Regions from separate parts of the Homo sapiens genome. Here regions 2, 3, 4, 5 and 6 are each linked to region 1. Evidence: fine-mapped expression QTL. A gene starts in region 1. Each other region holds a variant in brackets. All regions are shown on one strand. Distances are between the middles of the regions.

Region 1 (4,089 bases):
TGGCCAGGCCTGAAACCATGGGAGGAGGAGCTGGTCTGGGGAGCAGATGAGTTTCATTTTGAACATGGTGACCTAGAAGAGATGCTGCGCCATGTTTAGGGGGTGCAGATTAGCTGGGGAGCTCTGCAGATTAGCAGGGGAGCTCTCTAAGGCTACAGGTCTGGGGGTTAATCAATGAAGGTTTAGACAGGGAGTGTACAAAAAACAATCAACTCTCTCTTTAAAAAAAAAAGGTGCGTATCAGAATAAAAACAAAGGGCCACCATCTGCCTTGGGGATATCACTTTTACAGGGTGGGAAGACAACAACCTCTCTAGAGGAGGCAGATGGGCAGGTCAGAAAGGTAAGAGAATCAGAACTGGCTGTGTTTGATGAATGAAAAGATGATGGTGTTTCAGGAAATAGCAGAAATGCCACATATTTCAGAAAACTCCACAGGATAAAGATTGATAAAGGGCCACTGGATTTAGATAGAGAATGACATCGGTGACTTCTAAAGAATCAGAGAAAGAAGAGGCATGCAAGAACCACGATTCAGTGAAAGTTTACAAAGCAAACAAGCTACAAACTGGGTCAATATTGCTATACTTATTTTGAGTAAATTAATCTAAAATTGGGCAGACTGATGACTAGAATTCTTCTTTTCTTATTGTAAAGCTAGATATTAGTAACACAAAACTTGCACAAAAGGATGAACTGAAGTAGCTTCTTTCACAAGGTCAAAACAAGGAAAAATGAGGCTGTTCTGATTCCCTGAGCTTGTACCTGATTCCTGCTCAGTGTACTGTGCTTCCTTCCACTTACTGAGCTATTGAGGGCTACCTACTGCCAGGGTACTTCACATAGGAGGTAAGTAAATATTATCTCCCCATATGACAGATTTTAGAAAGGCTGAGGACCACCTGTGCAACGTTACACAGTTCAGGAAGTCAACAGTCAAACACTCACCTGTCTGACTTCAAAGCTACGCTGACTCTAGTTACCTATCCTTGGGTACTTCCCTTCTGGAAGGAAGCAGGAGATGAGTGAATCAAATAATACAGCCTTGTAACCTTGGGTAAATTATTATTGCCTTAATAGTAAGCAGAGACCAGGAGCCTAAGAAAGAATCTCATTAACATGGATGCAGGCTATCCTGCCAGGAAATCAGAATCATTTGAATATTAGGATTTCCTTTGGGAAACCATATGGGGAGGAGAAAAGACATCCGGATGCATGTGTCTGTGAAAGGGAAACTTGTGTCTTTCCCCTTGCTCTTGGGTTTTCATCTTCCAAGTTTGTTTATAGGCTAGCCACAACTCGAGGCTGGGTGAGCTGAACGGTCCCATCATTAGCGACACTCCTTCTAGGGGCACATTCGGGCAGCTCCTCTTCGGGTTCTGCCCCCACGGGTGTGCAACCAGGATTCCACAGGCTGGGGCTGGCCTGGATGCCTGGGAGGCAACAGAGGTCGAGTTTCTTCTTCTTTTAGGAAGTGCCTCGGACAGGGATGATGGACTAAAAATGTGTCTGGTTGGGAAAGTAAATAGATGCAAAGCAAATAAATAAAAATGCCCACAAGCAATTACAGGGAGGAAGTGACATTTTTATTTAAGTCACTTTTCTGATGGACAACAGGCCTGCTTAGCTGAGTGCCGTGGGAATGCTTCCGGGAGGGGGGCGGCTGCCCAGCAACTAGAGCTTCGTGATAAGAACAACGAACAAACAAAAAAGAGGACGCAAAGCCCACCCGGCAGTCATCCCAGGCTGGAAGTTGCCGTCTGTGTTTTCACTCTCCTCCCCACCCACCTACCCTGCCCCCCACCGCCCGCACGCAATTTCGGGCGTGGGGACCCTTTCCTGCCCCCGGCGCCCGGCCCGTGCTGCGCCTCCAGAGCGGAGCGTCCCGCAGCCCCGCGCTATCCCGGCGCCCGTACCGGGACCCGGGCGCGGAGCCTGGCGACGACGGGGGGCGCCCCAGGTGGGTCTCGGGTCCCCGCCCCGCGCGCCCGGGCCTGGGCCGGCCCCTGGGCGGCGTCACGGCGCGGCCGGGGAGGAGCGCGGGAGGAGGAGGAAGAGCGCGGAGGAGGCGGGCGCTGCGCGCCGGGGGAGGGTCGCCGCCGCCGCCGCCGCCGCCGCCGCCGCTGCCGCGGGGATCGTCAGGCCGGAGCCGCGCGGCCGAGCGGGCGGCGGGCGGAGGGGAGGGCTTGGCGGCCGGGAGGCTCGCGGCGCCCGGGCCGGCAGGGTCCGCCCGGGCCGGCAGCGTCCGCCCGGCGGCGGGAGGAGGGAGCGGCGCAGACAAAGAGCGGCGCCTGGGCGGGCGCAGCGCGGCCACCGCCCCGGGACCCGCGCCGCTGCCCTCCGGCTCCGCGGGCGGCCCACGGCGAGGTAAGCGCGGCTAGGCGGGCGTGGGGCGGGGGCCACAAACTTGGGGCCGTTGGGCGGAGTTGGGAGCGCGGCGGGGCTCGCGGGCCGGGGTGCGCCCGGGAAGGGGCCAGGAGAGCGGGTCCCCTCCGCGCCCCTCCGGTGCTCTCGGCCCTGCCGCGGCCTGGGCGCCCCCGACCGCGGACTGCCGGGCACCTCCCGGCTCTGCACCTTCCTGCCCGCCTTCCCATCCCTAACCCCCACCATCGGGGGCCGGCCCAGGGGCGGGGACGCCAGCCAAGGGCGCGGGCGAGGATCAGGGCAGGGGGCCCGGCTGCGGGGCCCGGGGACTGGAGACCCCCGGGTGCGCAGGCTGCGCCTGGCCTGCAGGCGGGCGGCCGGCACGGAGCTCGGGGCTAGCGTGGGACCGTGCGGTGGCCAGGGTCGCCAGGGCGCGTGTGCCGGGGAAGAATAGCCGCGGATCGCAGGGCCCCGGCGCAGGGACGGGGGAGGCCGCGATCGGCCGGGAGAACTTAACCGTGTTTATTACAACTATTTATGTTCGCGCACAAAGCTGCTGTCACATTGCATAAAGGAGGTCCTCGCTTCGGCGAAGGGAGCTTTTGTGCCCGGCTTCAGGCTCTGCGCCCTGCCCCAGATTTACAGGACTCTAACAGCCACCTGAATGAACCAAAGTTTCTCACAATCGCTCGGCTCTCTCGGTTTTTTTCAGGGCGATTTAATCACCGAGTGCTTTTGGAAAAATTTGATATGTGAGTTTTAAGGCATGGAGGGTAACTGCCTTATGAGCACAGTTAGCTTGGCATTGTGTGGAGGGGTTTAATTTGCAAAACGCTTTAATTTGTAGACAATGGGGATCTCTGTGAAGGTCTGCGGTGGATGCTAGGGGTCATTGGCTGGTGGACCCCAGGCACCTGACTTAAACTAGTATTGTAACAGCTTCAGGGACAAAGCCGAGCGTGCGTGGAGTCGGCCTTGGCCACTTCACACAATTCAGGTTGGCAGATTCCTCTTTATTTGGCTTTGTTTATTTTGCCAACAGGTTTAAGGCTGCTTCTGCCAAGTTTGCATCTGCATAATGGGATGAGCAGGCCCCAGTGTGGGCAGGAGGGGGCCTAAAATATCGCAAGGGCCAGCTCCGTCCCTCGACCCAGAAAGAAACAACCCTGAGAGGCCGGTGGGCGTGGCTTGCTGGGACCTACAGGTAGGGGAGTCCCTTCCTGGCCCAGGCGCAGTCCCCGCTTCTCGGAAGGGATTTTGTGTAGGAATGAAAGTGATTCAGGGTGTTTTTCATGCCTCTGTTTTAGATGTAGTTATCAAGTCTCAAAAGTGACTGAAAATGAAATTAACCTGGGCCGCTTTAACTTACCAAAACGGAACTGTGCGTGTGAACACTCCCTCAATTCACTTTGCAAGCTTCATAGATAAGCAGGTGAATTAGTAACAGGATTCAAGCCTTGCGAGTTTTACGTAAAGAGAATGGCAGTCATCGGACACGTGGAGAAGAAATTGACTTCACCTGGAGATTGGGCTAGACATGGAGGTTTTTTGACGTTTGGAACAGGGGTTTCCTGAGAAGCAAGTGTTAACCTGCTTGTGAAGAAGTGAACACGAGGGAAAATCCTACCTCAGTATATTCTGCCCTGGAGGTTGGTTAGATGTAGTTTTGATTGGAGAAGGTGGCGGAATCTTAGTGGTCTTCTGGCGGCTACTTGAGGCTGAAAT
Region 2 (4,089 bases), 92 kb after region 1:
TTTGAATTCACTCCTTTATCATTACGTAATGACTTTCTTTGCCACTTTATGTTTTTTGACTTAAAGTCTATTTTATCTAAATTATATTTTGTCTGGTATAAGTATAGCTACTCTTGCTTACTTTTGGTTTTCATTTCTGTGGAAGATTTTTTTTTCATCCTTTCCCTTCCAGTCTCTGTGTGTCTTTATAGGTAATGTTTTTTGTAAGCAGCATATAGTTAGGTGGTGTTTTTTAATCCATCTGTCCAGTCTATATCTTTTAATTGGGAAATTTAATTCATTTACATTAAAGGGTTTTTTTTTCAATTTTAATTTTTTTATTTTTTTAGAGACAAGGTCTCGTTCTCTTACTGAAGCTAGAGTGCAGTGGCATGATCATAGCTCCCTGTAGCCTTGAACTGTTGGGTTTAAGTGACTGCCCCCCTGCTTCAGCCTCCCGGGTAGCTGGGCCTACAGGTAGATGTGTGCTACCATGTCTGGCTAAATTTTATTTTTATTTTTGTAGAGATGGGGTCTCATTGTATTGCCCAGGCTGGTCTTGAACTCCTGGGCTCAAGCAATCCTCCCATCCCAGCCTCCAAAAGTACTGGGATTACAAGCATGATCCACTATGCCTAGCCCTACATTCAAGGTTGTTATTGAGAGATGAAGGCAAACTCTTGTAACTATGTTAAGTATTTTCTGGTTGCTTTGTATATCCTTTGTTTCTTTCTTCCTCTCATTGTTTTTCTTTGTGGTTTGCTGGTTTTCTTCAGTGGTAATATTTGATTCCTTTCACTTCCTCATTTATGTTTTCGCACTACCAGTGAGTTTTATACTTTTGTGTGTTTCCATGATGGCAGATATCATTCTTTTGCTTCCAAATGTAGGGTTTCCTTAAGCATTCCTCATAGGGCCAGTCTACTGGTGATGAATTCCTCCAATTTTTGCTTGTCTGGGAAAGACTTTTATTTCTTCTTCCTTTTTGAAGGATAGCTTTGCTGGGTATAGTATTCTTGGCTGGTTTTATATATATATACATATATATACACATATATATATATATATACGTGTATATATATATATATTTTTTTTTTGGTCAGCATTTTGAATATATCATAGTGAACTCTCCTGGCCTGTAAGGTTTCTGCTGAGAAATCTGCTGTTATTTTGATGAGGATTCTGTTTTATTTTACTTGATGTTTTTCTCCTGCTGTTTTCAGACTTCTCACTTTGTCTTACTTTTGACAGTTGAACTGCAATGTGCCTTGGAGAGGACTTTCTTAGGTTGAATATATTTAAGGATCTTAGAGTTTCCTGGATCTGGATTCTTTCTCCCACAAAGGGAAGTTTCCTGCTATTACTTTATTAAAGAGGGTTTCTATGCTTTTCTCCATCTCTCCTCCATTTAGAAATCCCAAAATATGAATATATGTTTGCTTAATAGGATCCCACATGTCAGGTAGGCTTTCTTCATTCTTTTTTATTCTTTTTTTCTGAATTCTGGTTTGACTAGGATATTTCAAAAGACCTGTCTCTATGTTCAGAAATTCTTTCTTCTGCTTGATCTAGTCTCTTTTTGAGGCTCTCAATTTTTTTATTTAATTCATTTAATTATTCAGTTCCAAGA[C/T]TTTTTGTGATAAATATCTCTGTTGAATTTCTCCATGAATTCTCATGAATTGTTTTTCTGATTTCGTTGAATTTTCCATGTTCCCATGTATCTCACTGAGTTTCCTTAAGATCATTATTTTAGATTCTTTTTTAGGCATTTTATGGATTTCCTTTTCTTTGTTCTGTTATTAGAGAATTACTGTGTTTCTTTGGAGGTTTTATTGTTTCCTTGCTTTTTCGTGTTTCTTGTATCTGTACGTTGATATCTGCACTGTTAGCGAAATAGTTTCTTTTTTTCAGTTTCATGGAGTATCTTTCATAGGGAACAGAGTTTTTTGTAGATGTATGCTATAGTATCATTTGGGTAGGATGCTTTGGGTTTGATTCTGGGTGAGCGTAAAAGTGTAGTCTTCGTATGATTTCTTGGACTGTAATCACTGTCAGTGGTGTCTGCAAGTGCCTCAGTGGCTTAAGCTGAAGTTGGTTTTGGAGGCGTGGTGTGGCTTTACTGAAAACAAGGACAGTGGGTGGGCTGGTTTTCAGGCCTCCAGGCTGCGTATGTGGCAGCTTACTGCTGGAGGGAGCAAAGTTGTTGGTGGAGGTAGTAGCAGGCCCCATGCAGTCAGCTTTCAGGCTCTGGGGAGACTGTGCATTGGCTCCCTTTGTTCTAGGGGAAGCCTTCCTTCTGTGCTGGACCACCTGTTCTACAGGGTGTAGGATGCTGCTTGGGTTCAGGTGTTGGGATTAGAGCTGCACTGCTGGGTCCAGCTGGTATCAAAACACTGCAGCTCTTTGGGTGGATACGGTGAGATGTTGACAGGACCCCAGGGATGTGGAGATGCTGGGGCCCCTAGGAGGATGCACTCTAGTGTGAATCCAGTCTCCAAATGGTGCCTTGCTGCAGCAGCCTGGGACTCAGGGAGTAGGGGCTACCCAGCATGAATGGTCTTTCTAGAGTAAAACAACTGCATGGATGCCAGGTACCTCCCTTTATGGGGCTCAAGGCCTATGATGGCTCTGGCTAAGATTGTAGGCATCTGTGGTGTGAATGTGGTCTGCTGTGGACCTTTAGCTTACTTTTTCCTATAACAGGGAGTCCCCCTTGGCTCTGAGTCAGTCCTGGCTGGCTGCTTTTCTTTCCTCTGTGCTGCCATCCTGAGCTTCTGTCCCTCGGAGGGTCTTGTTGCTTCTTTGCTGAATTCCAGTGTTCTCCCTTGGACATTTTACTTGCTGTGTGGTTATCTATTGTTTTAGTTCTTTGTGGATGAGGTGATTGCTGGGTGTGTCTCTAGTAGGCCATCTTAATGACGTCAAGCTCCTTGATTTTTAACGTTAGTTTTACCACATATGTAAGTCTAAACTACATTGTTTAATTTTGCTTGTTTTAGGGCTTTATGAAAATGGATCTATGTAGTATGCAGTCCTTTGACTTCCCCAACGCCTCCCCAATTGCATATTGTTTCTCCAAGTCATCTGTGTGATTGTGTGGGGAGTGGTGATTTCTTGGTTTTCACTTTCTTGGTATGATAGTGAATCATGTGACTATACCACCTATGTATCTTCCCTCCATCAGGGTTATTTTCTCTTCTTTAACTGTCATAAGCAGTACTGCCCTGAGCACTGTGCATGTCCCTGAGGCACAGTGCAAGAGTTTCTGTACTGCATATAAGTAGAAGTGGAGCTGCTGCCTTGTACGTATGTCAGTATTCTGCATTACAAGATAAGCCCACATTGGTTCCAAAGTAGTGATTCTGTTTTACTTTGTCCAGCACATGATGTGTATTCCCATTGATTTTCAACCTTCCTAACACATTATCAACCTTTTTCATTTTTACCCATCTACTATAAAATGGGATCGTATTGTGGTCTCAGATTATGAATGAACTTGAGTTATTTTTATGTTTATTCACCATTTGTGCTACCTGTCCTTGCAATGACTGTGTATTTTGCCTGCTGCCTAATTGAGTTATTGGTCTTTTTGTTGTTGAATTGTAGGAGTTCTTATATATTCAACACCAGTCCTGTACGATTATATGTGCTGTTTCCAACAGTTTCTTTACAAGTATATTTAATCCTATTTTGATCTATGAAAATCAATAATTCCTACATGAGAATTCACTGTTAAGCCAGACTTTCTGTTTAACTAGAACAGTCCTTTTTTTTTTTGTACCAGCAATAGATAACCACTATTTATAAACCTTAGCATTTTCAAGTCACAAGAAAATCTTGTGTTCTCACAGCTGTGCCGAAAGGGCTATATGCATTTTGTTTTGTTTCAATGTTCAGCAGCATATTTTAAAATTAAATTTTGGAGTTGATAAAGATAAATGCAAATTTTTAAATGCTGGAATTTTATTAAAATGTTTTTTTTTTTTTGGCCAGGTAACTAGTCTTAGACAATTGCCTTCTCAGTCATTTAATGAGCTTTCCTAAACTTTATCTTTCATTATCTGTGGCTGCACTAATCATTTGCTAAAAAGAATTGGAAGATTCACTCTT
Region 3 (4,089 bases), 25 kb after region 1:
AATTCCTTCCCTCTCTATTACTCACATCCCCGGCTCTCATCCTTAAGTAGTTGCTGTCTTTCTACATGTGAAAAATTTGAGACAAAAAAATGGACATCAGTACTTGTGTTTTCAGAAATGAAGACATCTCAAGCAGCACTGTCCAGCAGAAATAGAACATAAGCTGCCAGTGTGTGCTAGATGTGTAACTTCACCTCTCCCAGTAACCACATGAAAAAGGCTACAAATTTTAAGTCTTCTGTAGTCCAACATAACCAAAATATTTCAACATATACTCAAATAATTGCTAATGCCATTCATTTGCTTTCTTTGCCTGTCTGTAGAGTCCAGTGTGTGTTTGCCCTCACAGCAAGACATAGCTGGACTCACCACCCCTTGAGTGCTCAGTGGCCGCGTGTGGCCGGTGGCTGTGTTATCAAACAGGTCTCTGATTCTCTGACACCACCTAGGTGTCCCCTAATTTGGTTCAGTTCTGACACTAGCTTTTCAGGGTTCGTGCCGGCCTCACAAGTTTTGAGGGCTAAGTCCCACAAGACCATCCCCATTTCCGTCACCAGTTGCATGTCCTAAGCCACCTGTACTTCTGATCAACTGGCTGTAAATTGGGGTTCCCATGACCTCACTTCAGGTTCCATAATTTGCCAGGACAACTCACAGAACTCAGAAAGGCACTTTGCTTATTGTTAGTGGTTCCTATAAAGCTAGGTTGTCCAACCCGCGGTCCAGGATGGCTTTGAATACGGCCCAACACAAATACTTAAACTTTCTTAAAACATGATGAGTTTTTTTTGAAATTTTCTTTTTCTCATCAGCTGCAGTTAATGTTAGTGTATTTTATGTATGGCCCAAGATGATTCTTACAGTGTGTGTGGCCCAGGGAAGCCAAAAGATTGGACACCCCTGTTTTAAAGGATGCAACTTAGGAACAGCCCAAAGGAAGTGACACATGGGACGAGGGGTGGGAGTCCCCATGCCCCCTGGGGGAGACACCTCCTAGTGCACCATCCCAATGAGTTCATGACGTGGAGGCTCCCCACATCCCATTTTTCAAGAGTTTTTGCAGCCCAGTCTCCTGGCCCCCCACCCCTCCCAGAGGTTGGGGTGTAGGGGGTGCAGAAAGTTCCCACTCTCTAATCACACGTTTTGTCTTTCTGGCAATGACCAGCTCCCCTCCAGGCTATCTAGGGGCACCCCCCAACCCCACTGGTCACCTCATTAGCATAAGCTCAGGTGTGGTGCACTGGGGCTCTCTATGAATCACTAAGGGCACTCTTGTTGCTCAGTAAATACCAAGGGCTTTAGGAGCTCTATGCCAGAAACCAGGGACCAAGACCAGAGATCTTTTTTATTATCCACCTGGGCAGCCCTGTCAGCCTGCTGCCCCGCCCCACCCCTCCCCTCCCCATCCCCAGCTGGCTGCGCCCTATTTAAAGCCCTCCTCTCAGTAAAACAGCTGATGCGTGCCTATTTTACATTCTTTTCTACCCTGGGTCTGACGAATCATGACTCTCACTGTGCTGGTAACTCCCCCGTTCTTGCTTCTCAGGAAGCAAATGTAGGAAAAATATAGTAACATTTCTAAGGAAGCTTAGAGATACAAAATGTTTAAATGTAGCACAAAAATTGTGACTCTACTTATAATAACGTACAGAAGAATAACTCCACAGTAGAAGTTAGGCATCCATGGCTGCAGGTTTTCTAAGAAATGGGACGTGTGGGTGACCTACTGCACTGCCCACTGCCCTCTGGAGGGAACCATGGGGTAATTAGAGTCATTGGCCAAGAAGGGCCAGGGGTCCACGCAGCTTCCGCCCTGAGGAGTTGCACTGTGCAGTACAGCCAGGCGGCCACAGGAGCCACTGTGGCAGGGAATGCATGTGTCAGTGTGTCAGGCGTGGTCAGTAAAAGGAGTTGTAGAAGGTAAACCGGAGAAAAACTCAGATTTTAATCCCTCGGAGTAATCTTTGGCCTCTCCTCCTTCCGTGTGTGATGTTTCTTTGTTTTTAATTTTTTGACCTTCTGCTTTTTGATTCGGGATTTTGGAGCCAGAATGCCTTGGCCCCGCCATGAGGTCTGACTTGTGCTGGCTACTTTACCCTTGGTGCCTCCATTTCCTTCACTGGAAAATGGGTGATTGTGCAGAGTACAGTGAGTCAAACCATTGAGAGTGGTGCCTGGCACACAGCATTATTTAAGTATTTTTGCACTTAATTTCATGTAACATAAAGCACTAATAAGTAAAAAAAAAAAAAAAAAAGAAAAAGGTATATTGCAACAAGAAAAAGGATGGTGCTGTG[G/A]ACATGGGGTGTGGTTGCTAAAGGAATTTCTAAGAATCAGACTTCAAAAAAATGTTAATATTCTGGACAGAATTCTTTTCTACAGAATTCTTTGAACTTTAAGAGCATGATTGAAATTTCTGTTACAGTGTGACTCCAGTTAGAGGTAAACTTAGTGGCTCTATCTAATGCTGAGATCTTTTTAAAGGATGATGTTTGCATCTGGCTTTGATCTTTTGAGAGGTAGATTTATGTGTCCTGATTAAAAAGTACAGTGCTTTTCTTACAACTAAGAAGGCCTGAAACTTACTGTAAGGTTGTGTGTGTGTATGCGAATGTGTGTTTACATAACTGATCATATTTAAAATCATTTTCTTAGAAGTAGAAGGCTATAGAATATCTGTCATTTTTAGAGTGTGTAGATATGCTCTAGAAACAGACCACTGATCTGTAAAATGATCAGGTCAGTGATTCGGATTTGATTCTTGTGTGAATCACAGAGTGCTATATTGCCTAGGATATGGATATCGATATTTAGTAATCTGAATTATTTTTCATTATTTTAAACTTAAAGATCTTTAACAGGTCAAGAAAAATAATACTTCTGAAAATGTATTTCTACCCCTTTAAAGTATTTCAGATCCAGGAAGTCATTTTGGGTTAAACAGTTTGGCATTTCAGTTTGCTTATCATTTCAATCTTCAGTGTTTGGCAATTCTGATGTTAATATCATGATTTCTTTTTGTTTGTTTGTTTGTTTTTGCTTTTGTTTTTGTTTTGAGACGGAGTCTCGCTCTGTCGCCCAGGCTGGAGTGCAGTGGTGCGATCTCAGCTCACTGCAAGCTCTGCCTCCCGGGTTCACGCCATTCTCCTGCCTCAGCCTCCCGAGTAGCTGGGACTACAGGCGCCCGCCACCATGCCCAGCTACTTTTTTGTATTTTTAGTAGAGACGGGGTTTCACTCTGTTAGCCAGGATGCTCTCGATCTCCTGACCTCGTGATCCGCCTGCCTTGGCCTCCCAAAGTGCTGGGATTACAGGCGTGAGCCACCGCGCCCCGCCCAATATCACTATTTCTATCCCCTTTTATATTTTCCATTCTGACTTTCTAGTAAAAAAACATGAGGGCTGGCGGGGTGGCTCACGTGTGTAATCCCAGCACTTTGGGAGGCTGAGGCAGGTGGATCACCTGAGGTCAGGAGTTCAAGACCAGCCTGACCAACATAGTGAATCCCCGTTTCTATTAAAAATATAAAAATTAGCTGGGTGTGGTGAGGGCGCCTGTAATCCCAGCTACTTGGGAGGCTGAGTCAGGAGAATCACTTGACCCGAGAGGTGAATGTTGCAGTAAGCCGAGATTGGGCCACTGTACTCCAGCCTGGGCGACAAGAGTGGAACTCCCTCTCAAAAACAGAAAGACCTAATTTAGACAAATATTTCAAGAAGTTTCCCATTGTTTCTAATCATGTCACTTAGGTAGAAAGTAATGTTCTTTTCTTATCAATAGAAGGCAGCTTTTTTAAAGCTGATGTTTCTCAAATAGAGGCTACTGAGATTTGCTTTGAGTTCATAAAGCTTTCTAGAAAAAGCATGTACCTGGGTTGACCGCTACTGGCAGCTTTTTCTAACCATTGTTTTCTTCTGTCTGAAGTAAAAACCCTCTGGTGTGAAAGCTGCCATTCCTTTGTGAGGCCTGCCCATCACTCAGATCTATATTTTTCTCCGCAGCTGTTCCCAGAAGCTTCCTCAGACTGACTTCCTCCCTCCCAGGGCTGTTCCAGGGCCTCATTTTCCACTCCCTCCCAGACACCCTTC
Region 4 (4,089 bases), 66 kb before region 1:
TTGGTTTCATATGAAGGGTACTGGAGTGAAAACCAGGCAACATATTCTCTAGATGCTGTTTCCAGGATTTTGGTCACTAGATCAGGAGAGGTCCTTGAAGTCCTGCAAACAAAATCCAAGAACTTCATACTTCAAAAATTGGGAAACCAAGTCCCAGCTACTCAGGAGGACCACTTGAGCCCAGGAGTTTGAAGTTTGAGACCAGCCTGGACAACATTGAGAGACCGTGCCTCTCAAAAAATAATAATAACAAAAGAAATTGGAAAACAAAGCTTGAGCTTCTCAATTCTATCCTAACACCTGAACCATTTCCTGAACAAAAGTGTTTCTCTCTAGCTGTTAGCCCAGCACATGGCTGCCACAGATGGAGGATCCCTCAGCACCTTTGCCTCATAGCTTTGCAACCATACACTCTCAGGTCCAAGGCCACTTCTGCTGTACACCTTCTCCCTCCCTCCCTCTCTCTCCCTCTCTTTCTTTCTTTCTTCCTCTTTCTTTCTTTCTTTTCTTTCTTTCTTTCTTTCTTTCTTTCTTTCTTTTCTTTCTTTCTTTCGTCTTTCTTTCTTTCTTTCTTTTTTGACAGGTTTTCACTCTGTTGCCCGCAGTGGAGTACAGTGGCATGATCATAGATCACTGCAGCCTCGAGCTCCTGGGCTCAAGTGATCCTCCTGCCTCAGCCTCCTCAGGTGCTGGGACTACAGGCACATGGCACCATGCCTGGCTAATGTTTTTTACTTTTTGTGGGAATGCAGTCTTGCTATGTTGCCCAGGCTGGTCTCAGACACCTGCCTTGCTGTGTCGCCCAGGCTGGTCTCAGACACCTGCCTTGCTGTGTCGCCCAGGCTGGTCTTGAATTCCTGGCCTCAAGCAAGCCTCCCACCTCGTCCTCCCAAAGTGTTGGGATTACGGACATAAGCCACCTTGCCCGGCCACATACAACTTCTCTTTGAACAGAGAATTCAAATACCTCCTAAGCACTCCTTTAGAAAAACTTGCTTCCTAACTCTCCTGCAAATTTGATTCATTTGTAGGCAATGGGCCTTATGCTATTCATTATTATAAAGTCTTGCTTTATCATTACTGTTGAAGAGAAAAGTATTGAACTTTGGCGTTTTGCATTTAAACTCTTTTCTAGGATCCTTGAGCCGAGTGAATGGAAACCTGAAGTCAACCTGGCTACTCTGTCTTTTTGCAGTGTCCCAAGAGCAGACCCTCAACCAGGAGTCTAGGGCAAGTAGTTTATCTCCAAGGAGAGGAGAGAAGAAGGGATGTGGGACAGGGAAAAGAAGAAACCAATAAAAGGTATGTGCTATGGATTGAATGTTTATGTCCTCCCTAAATTCGTTTGTGGATGCCCTAATCTCAATGTGATAGTATTAGGAGGTGGGGTCTTTGGGAGGTGACTAAGTCATAAAGGTAGAGCCCTCATGATGGGTTAGTGTCCTTGTAAGAACAGATGTGACACATGAGAGCTTGCTTCTCTCTCCTCCATGAGGGCAGAACAAGAAGGACCATCTATGAGCCAGGAAGAAAGTGAGCTCTCACCAGGAACCAAATCCACCAGCACCTTGATAGTGGACTTCTGGGCCTCCACAACCGTGAAAAATAAATGTCTGTTGCCCAAGCCCCCTAGTTCATGGGATTTTTGCTGTAGCAGTCCCCGCCAGGACAGAATGCTATTAAGCATTTTACCATTGAAGGCAACTGGTGTTCAGTGAATCTGGGGAGCTCTGACTTTCTGGAACGTGTGTCTCTCATAGGGTGGAGAGGGAGCTGGGGTGTCTATCCATCAACTCAGGTCAGTGGTTGAAGGTTGCTGGGGCTGGGTGGGGTATTAATTTGCTGCTTCTCTGGATTGCTGAATCTCGAGAGTCCAGGAAAGGACCAGAGATGCAGGTGCTGGCGTTGAACCATCCAAGGCTCTGGCTGCAAGGGTAAGGGCTGAGGAGATGGGCAGGGCACTGTTGTGCCTGCTGAACTTCCCC[G/A]TCACCAACTCATCATGACGTGCAGTCGATTTTCCTTTCTAAGAATTTGCAAGATATTTAGCAGGAAAGCTTTCTAAATTCCCTACTCTCATTCTGCAACATCATCTCCTAACTAAGACTGGTGGGTGGGTGTGTGTGTCTATATATATGTGTGCAATATATGCCTCTTCTCTTTCTCACATATGCAGTGAGTTATATAATACGAGTCAGGCAAATATCGTCACATGGCATTTGTCTGGAAAGCTCCTTCTCCCCGGAGGCCCTTCCCTCCCACTTCAGCCAGGTACCTCCTACTCTTCCTTCCCGTGTTAGCTCGGTCATCACTTCCTTGGTGAAGTCTTGCTAACCTTCCTTCCTGGTTGGGCTCATTCTTACTAATATATACTCTCAGCACAACGTATGTCTCTCTTTTGCAGTACTTATTGGTGCTGTGATTTTTGTTTTTATATTCCCTGGACAGTTTATTGTAACCTCTTGTTAAATCACAGGTGACCCTTAATATCTGGAGACATGCAGGCATTCTGATTTTCCTTTATAGGGGTTTGAGGGAGGAAGCAGAAGGTAGAAAGGTGAAGCTGGAGATGACCATGATGTAGAAAACCAGGGAAGTTGCTGATGGGTGTATTTGTCCACATACGTGAGTGATATATGTCTGCTGCTTTTGTCACATGTGCACTGTATGTAGGTGAGTCTTCAGATGACTATTATAATGTGGCTGTGTGAGTGCCGTGGGGTGGGGCACCATACTGCAAAGTGTACTTATCTGTTGTGAATTTCATTATCTTGGAAAGCACTAACCCAATCAATTGAACTGAGCAATTTCATTTCACTTACATTTACTCCTTTGTTCTTCCCAATTTTGTCTGTTTTCTCTTCACTCCTGTCTACCTTCTATCCTAGAACATCTTTACGATACTTTAATACTTGAAACCCCAAAAGTGATATGCAAGAAACTATGACACCGATTAGGAATCCTGCTTTTCTTCCATGTAATTAGATAAACATACACTTGGGTTGCAGGGCACCATATGTCCCATGTTTCCAGGAGCAGACTGGCAGTGAGAGTTACCCACCCATGCCCCTGAGCACCCACCATTCCCTGCATCCTGGAGACAAACATCTGAGCATTTTTCCCAAGGGCTTCCCTGGCAGCCAGAGACCATTGTGCCATGCTAAAGGCAGGCCAGGAGCTCATGAGAGTCGATCCCATGAGGAGGAACCCTCAGTTAATGTCCCTAATGGGACAGGGTAGATAGATCCCCAGCTCCCTGCCCCTCTGCTGGGGCACCACTGAGGCATGGCCAACACTGTCTATTGTACTTTCCCTGAAGGCTGAGCCGCACTGCCCACGGGATCACTTGCTTCATAATGCACCTTTTGTTGGCTTTTGCATTCCCTTCTCTGTCTCCTGCCCATGTTTCCAGGGATCCCCTTCCAAAACAAATGGTTAACTTTGAATCTTCGTCTCAAGGTATGCTTCTGGGGAAACTCAGGAAGAGGAAAGCGATTTACACAAACAAAAGGCCTCATTGGTTCTGCAGTTATCTGGCATCTTTTACTTGCTAAATGTGACCTGTCCTCAAAACCATAACTGCCATCAGTCGTGTTATTTTTCCACCTGCTACTTTGTTACGGTTCTTCCACTGGCTACTTTGTTATGTTCTTCTTAGCACAGGATGATTTTTAAAATATCCTGAACTCTTGGAAAGAAACTGTCATTACCCTAAATGGAATGAAAACCAGGATTTCCACCTAACACCTAAGACCTTGCAGACTCACTTCCATCCCTTGAGGTTCAGTCTCTGCCTGGGGATTTCTCACTACTTATTGCTGCTGCCTCCTCCAGCCTCTAGAAAGTGACTTCTCTCTTCACCACTCCGGTCCTCAGAATTCCCCAACACCTAGCTGAAGTCAAGCGGGATATTTTGACAGGACTTTGCAAATGCTACGCCATCAGCGGAATGCTTTTGACCTGTGGCCTCAAAGTCCCTTCATTCCCTTGACACATATCTAATGGGTAGCACTGTGCCAGGTACTGCTCTAGAGGCTGGGGAGAAAGCTGTAAATAAAAGAGATAAAACGCCTGCTTTCTTGAGCTCGAAGT
Region 5 (4,089 bases), 280 kb after region 1:
CTGCCAAAATCTTTGTTGGCCAGGGTCAATATTCAACTTATTAAAAGAAAAGTCTCATTCTCTTTCCCCTTTTTTCCATTTGCTCCTTCTCCAGATAAAGAACGAGGGTAACTAATGCAGAGAAAAAATAACCACCCTCAACCAGGAGGCCACGCTGCAGAAGGATCCATCTCTCTGAGTTGTCTCTTTACCCTAGGCTGGGTCTGGATGTTCAGAGCAGAGTTTTAGCAGGCATGCTTTGGAGCTCAAGAACAGGGGTCCCCAACCCCCAGGCTACAGACTGGTACCAATCTGTGGCCTGTTAGGAACCGGGCTGCACAGCAAGAGGTGAGTGGCAGGTGAGTGAGTGAGCATTACTGCCTGAGCCATGCCTCCTGTCAGATCAGCCTGGCATTAGTTCTCGAAGGAGCATGAACCCTATTGTGAACTGTACATATGAGGGATTTAGGTTGCATGCTCCTTATGAGAATCTGTACCTGATGATCTGAAGTGGAACAGTTTCATCCCAAAACCACCCTTCCCCACCCCTATACTCCCCCTAATCCCTGTCCGTGGAAAAATTATCTTCCATGAAACTGGTCTCTGGTGCCAAAAAGGATGAGGAACGCTGCTCAAGAACATAAAAGAAGTACAGACCCTAATCCTGGATGCTCGGGTAGGCTGGTGATTGGCTTTTCAAAAGCTTTATTTCTATTAAAGGAGAGAAAATAAAATGAGAAAGATACCACTTCGATGGCTGTAACAAAATTCTAATATTTAAAAGTGATACCAAAATATAGATTGTGTAAAGTAGGGAGCAGATTTCATGGTGGGAAATACAGGGCAGTGAAGTAGAAATAATTGCTGGGTTTGACATTTGAAGACCTAGGTTTGGTTCCTAGCTGGGCCACATTTTAGCGGTCACTATGGTCTTTGAGTACTTCCAGGCTCATCTTATATTTTTCCTGCTCAACACCCAAATTAGCTATTTACCAAGGAATCCTGGTTGCTTTTGATAGAGAGTGATACTTAGATCCGGGTGAAAGAAACCAAGATCTGGGGCCTACATATGCTCATTGCTATGAGGGCCTCAGTGTGTCTCCCTTTCAGTGGAGAGAACTAAGGAATGTATCTTTGGAATCATGGATTTATACTGATATCTTCAATTCAAAGACAATTCAACACAAATACATTGCCGAGTTCTTCCTCAATATCCTCCACACCATATTTGTATCTCTCTTCTTCCTTACTCATTGCTTTATTCTAGGACATAACTCAAAATATTCCAGAATCACAGTATCGATACCAGTACTGACAACAAAACTCCTAAGATCAAGATTTCTTTGCAGGTCTTTTTACCCTTAGAATAAGTCCAACTAAATGTGTATGCTTGGAGCTCAGCTTTTAAGTTACTTAATTCTTTTTTTCTATGTACTTATGTAACCAGTTTGGTAGATAGTATATCATTGTGTTGTGTTTATCCAAGTTTAGAGTGCTTCTAAAAAACTCTTTGATTTAATTTTATTTTTGAATATGTAAAACACATAATTCAAAAGTCAAAACTGGCCAGGCACAGTGGCTCACGCCTGTAATCTCAGCATTTCAGGAGGCCATGGCAGGAAGATTGCTTGAGCTCAGGGGTTTGAGACCAGCCCTGGCAACATGGCACAACCCCATCTCTACAAAAAATACAAAAATTAGCCTGGCATGGTGGTGCATACCTGTAGTCCCAGCTACTCAGGAGGCTGAGGTGTGACGAATGGAT[T/C]GCTTGAGCCCAGGAGACTGAGGCTGCAGTGAGCTGTGAGTGTACCACTGCACTCCAGCCTGGGAGACAGAGCAAGAACTTGTCTCAAAAGAAAAAACAAAGTCAAAACTACATAAAAAGTGATAGTCATTCCTGTCCTTTACCTCTTACACTCTGAGCCTATCTCACCCCCCAAATTTCACTGGTTTATGATTTAATCTTCCTGCCATCACGGCTAGGCTAGAATCACGGTGTTGGCAGTGCTATCTTCCTTCCAGGTGATGATCCGTTTCCTCGCCTTTTCCAGCTTCTAGAGGCCACCTGCATTCCTTGGCTGTGGCCCCTTCCTCCACCTTCAGAGCCAGCAAAGTCAGGCTGAGTCCTCTTCATGCTGCATTTCGCTGGCTCCCTCTCTTCTGCCTCCCTTTTCCACTTATAAAGACCCTTGCAACCACATTGGGCCCACCTGCCCAAGACAGTCAGCTGATTAGCTGTCTTAATTCCATCTGCAACTTTGATAGCCCTTTGGCATGTAACCTAATATATTCACAGGTTCTAGAGATTAGGATGTGGACATCTTTGGGGCCATTATTCTGCCTGCCGTGGATTTCTGCTATCACATTGGCTAACTACTATTGGTTTGTTTCTTGCAACCACATCAGAGGAGCCAGGAAACCTCCCAGAGGAAGTTTGAGTGTTTTCCCTACACCTGGGAACTGGTGTCAGGAAGGTTTTTGCTCACTCTTAATATCTCTGATGAAGCCTGAAATCCTGCAGGACTTAGCAATTGGTCTTGGAAGAAAAATGGCACCATTGTCAGGGCTGGAAGATGCTTTGTGCCTGAGCCAGCATCTGAGCAGCTGCAAGCATCCTTGTTGCACTCTCTTCCCCTTGAGGAATGAGGACAACGCAGCACCCACAGGTGTCCTCATCCGAAGCTGGGCTATTCTTTTACCCAGCTCAGCTCACTCAAGTTGCAAATCTGTGAATGCAAACTTGGAACGGAATGCCCTAAAACCAGCTTCAGCTAGCCCAAAGTTGGGGAGTAGAAGCGGGGAGGGGGGAGAATTATGACTTAAATTATGATTTTAAATGAACATGAGGTTGCTCTTTCCTTTCCAAAATTTGAAACCTGCCTTGCATTCCTGGCTACAATAAATAAGACTTTTGACATTTTTCTACAAGGTAAAAGGTAGACGTAAGAAGTGTGTGAGGAGATGTGTTCTCCCTCCTGCCCTCCGCCTACACTAGCAGCTCAAGGAGTTCCCTGGTTTCGATTGCCTCATTCCCCACCCTGGGCTGTTCTGTCCCTCAGGCAGGGCCTTGGGGCCTGTGAAATCAGGGGCCCCAGGAGAATCTAACAGGTGGCTTGGCTGAGGGTGTGGAGTCAAGAGGGACCTATGGTGAAGGTTGGCTCATGGAACCCTAATTTAGCTCATAAGGGTCCTTCACTAAGCTCTTCTGACCTGACACTCTATTTCTAGATGTATCCTTCCCTTTCTAGATGCGTCCTTCCCTTTCTAGATGTATCCTTCCCTTTCCTTATTCTCTGTCTTTTTCTGGGATGGGGGCTGAGTTTGGGATGTTAGTACAGACAGTGTGATGGGAGAGATCTTTCTTACTTTTCCAATTATGTTCTCTGTCTCTCTCCCTCTCTGTCTCTGTCTGTCTCTCTCTGTCTCTCCTCTGTCTCTGTCTTTCTCCTTCTCTCTCTCCCCTTCTATGTCTTCATCTCTTTCTCCTCTCTGTCTCTCTCTTTCCCCATTTGCTATCCCTCTCTGCCTCTTTCTCTGTCTTTCTTTCTCTCTGCTTCTCTCTCTCTTCCTTTCTTGTTTTCTTTCTTTCTCAACCTCCTCTGGCTACAAATGAGATCTATACCAGATTTTAAATCCTGCCTTTAACTTTGTGATAAACCACTATTCACTGCTTTGAATTTCAGAAATTAGAAATATTGAGCATATGTCCCCGTAGGCACCAGGGAAAAGCATTTTCTTGTTCACAGAGGTGTCACCTCTTTTTCCTTGCAAAATTCTGCCCTGGAGCAGATCTCATGTGTGGGCCTGAATAAAAATGTGACTAGAAAGTAATAATATGGTCGACTTTTCTTTTTTTTTTTTCCTGATAAGTGAGCGTAGTACCCTTCAGTTAGGTGCTCTGAGAGCCTAAGCATTTATTCCAGTCCACTCCTTTCGGGACATTGAGTTTAGACTCTGCCTCATATTTTGGGGGCAATTCCCAGTACTAACAAATATTTGTCTTTGGGAGTGTTTTTATTTTTGGAACCAACCAAATGCTCTTTAGAGCCCTGGTGAAGGTGGGTGATCTGGCAGGACGATGGCACATTTGGTCAAAAAGACGAAGATGTG
Region 6 (4,089 bases), 36 kb after region 1:
CTGCTGACCATCCTCTGTGGCGTGGGAAGTGGTGGTGTGTAAGAACACACCTGCCCTTAACACTGTGTGCATGGGGACCAGGGAAGGGCGGTGATGGCAGAGGGAAGAAGCCCTTGGTTCTGGGCAGCCTCTCCATGGGGATTTGCCGGCAGAGTTAACTCTCACAGAGTAATGCAGGATGCTGGTGGCTGCGTGAACCAAAGGTGCCCCTATTAACTGGAGTTTCTGCACATTCCTCCTTAGGCTGGGAAATCATGCCCTTGTTACTGCACTGGTTATGTGTATCAATTGAGATAATGGTTATTTTTTTCTTCTTTCATTTCTTATTATTTTTGTAGAGACAGGATCTCACTCTCTTGCCCAGGCTGGAGTGCAGTGGTGTGATCATAGCTCGCTGCAGCCTCAAACTTCTGGGTTCCAGTGATCCTCCTGCCTCAGCTTCCCAAGTAGCTAGGACTATAGGCACACACCACTATACCAGGCTAATTGAGATAATGGTTATTTTTTTTTTCAAGAGCTTTAAGAATATGCTTTAAGAATATCTTTTTTAAACTTGGAAATTCAATATTTAAATGTTAAAACAAATAATTGAGAATAATTTTCATTAATAATCCATCATAAGGCTGGGCACAGTGGCTCACACCTGTAGTCCCAGCACTTTGGGAGGCTGAGGCAGGTGGATCACTTGAGGTCATGAGTTTTTGGCCAGCCTGGCCAACATGGTGAAACCCTGTCTCTACTAAAAATACAAAAATTAACTGGGCATGGTGGCACATGCCTGTAGTCCTAGCTACTCTGGAGGCTGAGGCATGAGAATCGCTAGAAACTGGGAGACAGAGGTTGCAGTGAGCCGAGATTGTGCCACTGCACTCCAGCCTGGGCAACAGGGCGAGACTCCGTCTCAAAAAAAAAAAAAAAAAAGAATCCGTCATAAAATGTGTTTATTAAAATCACTCCTGAAGAAAACAGAAAACACCTAGACTTGAGGCTTTTAATCTTTTTTAATTAACTAAAGGGGATACTTTAAGTTGATTGCCATGTGACTGTTATATATAGAGCTTCAGTCTGTCTGAATATGGCTGCATCTCTGCCACCTACCAAGTGGTGGGTGGCTGCGTCCAGCTGAACTTGGCTTCCTGGAGCTGGGTGCAGCCTCCTGGCTGCAGACCTGAAAAGGACTGCCCATTCTTTGTGCTTTACACTTGGCCTTGTGGGCAGATGGAAAGGAGAGCTTGCTCTCCGCCCACGGGAGACGTATGCAGGTGGAGGAGAGGAGGAAAGAGCTTTGATTTTTTTTTTTCCCACTAATCAGCTTTTGAATTGAGCCTCTTGGTCAGACCATGATTTAAAACGCACACTCACATACATATACATAGTAATTCCCTAGCAGAAATGTAGCTTTGTAGAGTCCTCACGTTCTGTATGATGGATTAATTCCCTTAGTTATAGGAAGGAGAAACTGATATGGGGAAAACAGCCTGAATGCCATAGCCTACGAGACCGCCTTCACCCTCTCATTCAGGATAGCGTGTACATATCCACATACTTCACAGCTCAGCGAATTCTCAAGACCTCCTGTGTGTGCTTCCTTGGGTTATTTAATTCAATTCTACTCTTTTCATAAACTACTCTAATTTCCGTTTTTCCAGTTTTGCCTTTACCTTATTCAATGGCATTATTTTAACTGAGCATATTTTGGACGTACTAGAAATGAAGCATATTTCCTTTGTTTTAAAATTTCTGGTTGCAAGATTAATCAAGAATAATAAATATTTATTGTAGAATATTTGGAAGGTTTTTAAAGTGAAATTTCTATTAATAAAACCATTGCTTCTCAGCATCTAGATTAAGTTGGGACCTGATAGTCATAAATATTTAGATGTCTGTCACATTTATTTCCATAATATGGGAGAGAGATATATACACACACACACACACACACACACACACACACACACACATTCATCTAAAGGACACACACACATACTCTCTCCCTTTCTGGCTCTCTCATTTTCGTTTGGTATCTGGGTTAAAATTCTAATGTTCATCCTCAAATCCTGCTTCTCGCTCATGTCCTGTGTCACATCCATATAGATGTTGAATAAAGTGATAACCACATTTTTGTCATCTATACCTGGGCACTATTGAGAGTGGGAGGGGTGCTGTCTGTAATTATGCTGAAACATCAGTCACCA[G/A]TCAGAGCCCCTGGTCACTGATGTGGTCTGAATGTGTCCCTCATATGTTGAGATCCTACCCCCCAAGGTGATGGTATTTGGAGGTGGGGCCTTTGGGAGGTGATTAGGTCGTAAGAGGGGAGCGCTTGCAAATGGGATTAATTTCCTTACGGAAGACACCCCAGAGGGCCCCCTCACCCCTTCAGCATGTGAGGACACAGCAAGAAGCCGCCGTGTAGGAACCAGGAAGGAGGCCCTTACCAGACACTGAATTTCCTGGTACTTTGATCTTGGACTTCCAGCTTCCACAACTGTGGGAAATAACTTCCTTTGTTTATAAGCCACCATTCTGTGGTATTTTGTTACAGCCAGCCAAATGGACTACCACAGTCACCCAGCCTTGACTAAGTGACCCTCTCTTTTCTCATTGCCCGAATCTAGATTTTGTCTCTCACCTGGTCGTGGTCTTCCTGTCTTCTTGCTTTCAGATTTTTCTCCCTCCCACCCACCTATTCCGGGGTTGGCTTTCAAAGATACAGATCTAATTGTTTTACTTCTCTTCTTATAAACTATTAGCTTCCCATTTCCTAGAGGTGCCTTTGTGTTGTCAAAGCACCTTTAAAATCTGATCTTTGCTCCACCTTCTACCATTCAGCCCTTGTGAATTTTATGAACATGATTACTCTAGGTATTCCCAAGGGAGCCGTGCACTTTTTACACCTCTGTGCCTTTGCAGGTCCTGTTGCTGACACAGGGGCAGCCTTCTCCCATCTCCGCTTCCACCTCCACCACTCATCCCTTCCCACACTGCAAGACTTGACTAAATGCAATCTCCCTTTTGAAGCCTTCAGGATTCCCCCAGCCAGAACTAGTGACCCTCCTTGGCCTTCTAGTCCATGTACGTCTGTTTCGTAATATTTCTGCACTCATTCCTGGAAGGCAGTACAGCCTAGCAGTTAAGATCTGGTTTGCTGGCATGAATCATGACCTGCCATTGCCATAGTGTGACTTTGGGCTGGCAGAGGTCTTTGTGCATCAGTTTTATTATCTGAAAAATGGAGAAAATAGCAGTCTTGTAAGGTAGTTGTTAGGTTTATAATAAAGAGCAATGCATGAAAAGTACAGAGCCTGTGGCTTGGCAAGTGATAATCCTGCAATTTATGTTGTCTGTGACAGAGCTGTCGCCTCTCCGCAGTACGAAAATTTGTAGACATGTCTGTTTCTCCAGTTGGAATGAGTCTGTGATAAGGACTCTGGCCACGTAGTGATGCTCATTAGGCATTTGCTGAATGAACTGGTATACGTGCATATGTATTCTTCCCTCTTTATTTCTTGCCGTAAATGCTTTTAACTGAAATAGGTACATACAGCTGTCAGTTTCTTGACTATGAAGTTGAGAATGTCCAAGTGAGTCCAAATTACCTGAAAACCTGCGGCCCATCAGGTCCCTCAAGCTGAGGGAGGAGCTCCTAGACAAAGACCTGGTTTCCCAGGTTTGAGGTCCATTCCTTCCTTACTCTGTTCTTACTATGACTGCGGGAAGTTGCTTTTGGGCTTCCGCGAGAGTGGGAGCCTATCACCGATCATCTCTTTCCCCTCTCTTTATAGGAGTAAGGGGACAACCCTCCTGGTCTGGCTGTAGGCAGGCGGGGTGGCCGGGCCCAGGGACTCAGGGTGGCCCTTCCTTCTGGTGTAGATGGATGGATTATCAGGCACATCCTGCTGATGGCTTCCACCAGCCCATGGGGATTAGTGATCTGCCTTCTCTCTCTGCCACCAAAAATCTCCCTAAAACTAGTTCCACTCTCTCCACAGCAGGTGTCAGAGTTGGGTTGATGGCCATTTGAGGACTTGAGAAGAAACAGTCTATATAATGAACGCTCTTTTCTTAAGTATTAAAGTTACTTTAAATTCT

Which allele goes with the higher level. Positions count from the first base shown, and alleles are read on the strand shown. Sizes are in standard deviations (SD) of each study's normalised expression. Not every link is listed here.
For the expression in tibial artery of the gene that starts at base 2,141 in region 1, allele C in region 5 goes with a lower level than allele T (small effect, 0.24 SD a copy in GTEx).

The links. PIP is the estimated chance that this variant, and not a neighbour inherited with it, causes the effect.
Region 2: its variant is fine-mapped to the expression of NCK2 in whole blood (TOPMed, PIP 0.96).
Region 3: its variant is fine-mapped to the expression of NCK2 in whole blood (TOPMed, PIP above 0.99).
Region 4: its variant is fine-mapped to the expression of NCK2 in whole blood (INTERVAL, PIP above 0.99).
Region 5: its variant is fine-mapped to the expression of NCK2 in tibial artery (GTEx, PIP 0.95).
Region 6: its variant is fine-mapped to the expression of NCK2 in whole blood (INTERVAL, PIP above 0.99).

Annotation. Positions count from the first base shown.
Region 1 is chr2:105,742,772-105,746,860 of GRCh38, forward strand. NCK2 (NCK adaptor protein 2) reads left to right here and starts at 2,141. Exons shown (of 5, transcript NM_003581.5): 1 at 2,141-2,367. RefSeq lists silencers at 1,792-2,111, 2,302-2,361, 2,472-2,861 and enhancers at 3,232-3,301, 3,402-3,451.
Region 2 is chr2:105,834,358-105,838,446 of GRCh38, forward strand. The region is part of intron 2 of NCK2 (NCK adaptor protein 2); the gene reads left to right. Among named protein-coding and RNA genes, the nearest start is that of NCK2, 91 kb to the left of the region's middle. RefSeq lists an enhancer at 811-860. The variant C/T (reference allele first, on the strand shown) is at 1,610.
Region 3 is chr2:105,767,886-105,771,974 of GRCh38, forward strand. The region is part of intron 1 of NCK2 (NCK adaptor protein 2); the gene reads left to right. Among named protein-coding and RNA genes, the nearest start is that of NCK2, 25 kb to the left of the region's middle. RefSeq lists enhancers at 1,348-1,850, 1,851-2,353. The variant G/A (reference allele first, on the strand shown) is at 2,298.
Region 4 is chr2:105,676,295-105,680,383 of GRCh38, forward strand. No RefSeq gene overlaps it. Among named protein-coding and RNA genes, the nearest start is that of NCK2, 67 kb to the right of the region's middle. The variant G/A (reference allele first, on the strand shown) is at 1,986.
Region 5 is chr2:106,021,533-106,025,621 of GRCh38, forward strand. No RefSeq gene overlaps it. Among named protein-coding and RNA genes, the nearest start is that of ECRG4, 42 kb to the right of the region's middle. The variant T/C (reference allele first, on the strand shown) is at 1,745.
Region 6 is chr2:105,778,404-105,782,492 of GRCh38, forward strand. All of the region lies in intron 1 of NCK2 (NCK adaptor protein 2), which reads left to right. Among named protein-coding and RNA genes, the nearest start is that of NCK2, 36 kb to the left of the region's middle. RefSeq lists an enhancer at 1-2. The variant G/A (reference allele first, on the strand shown) is at 2,196.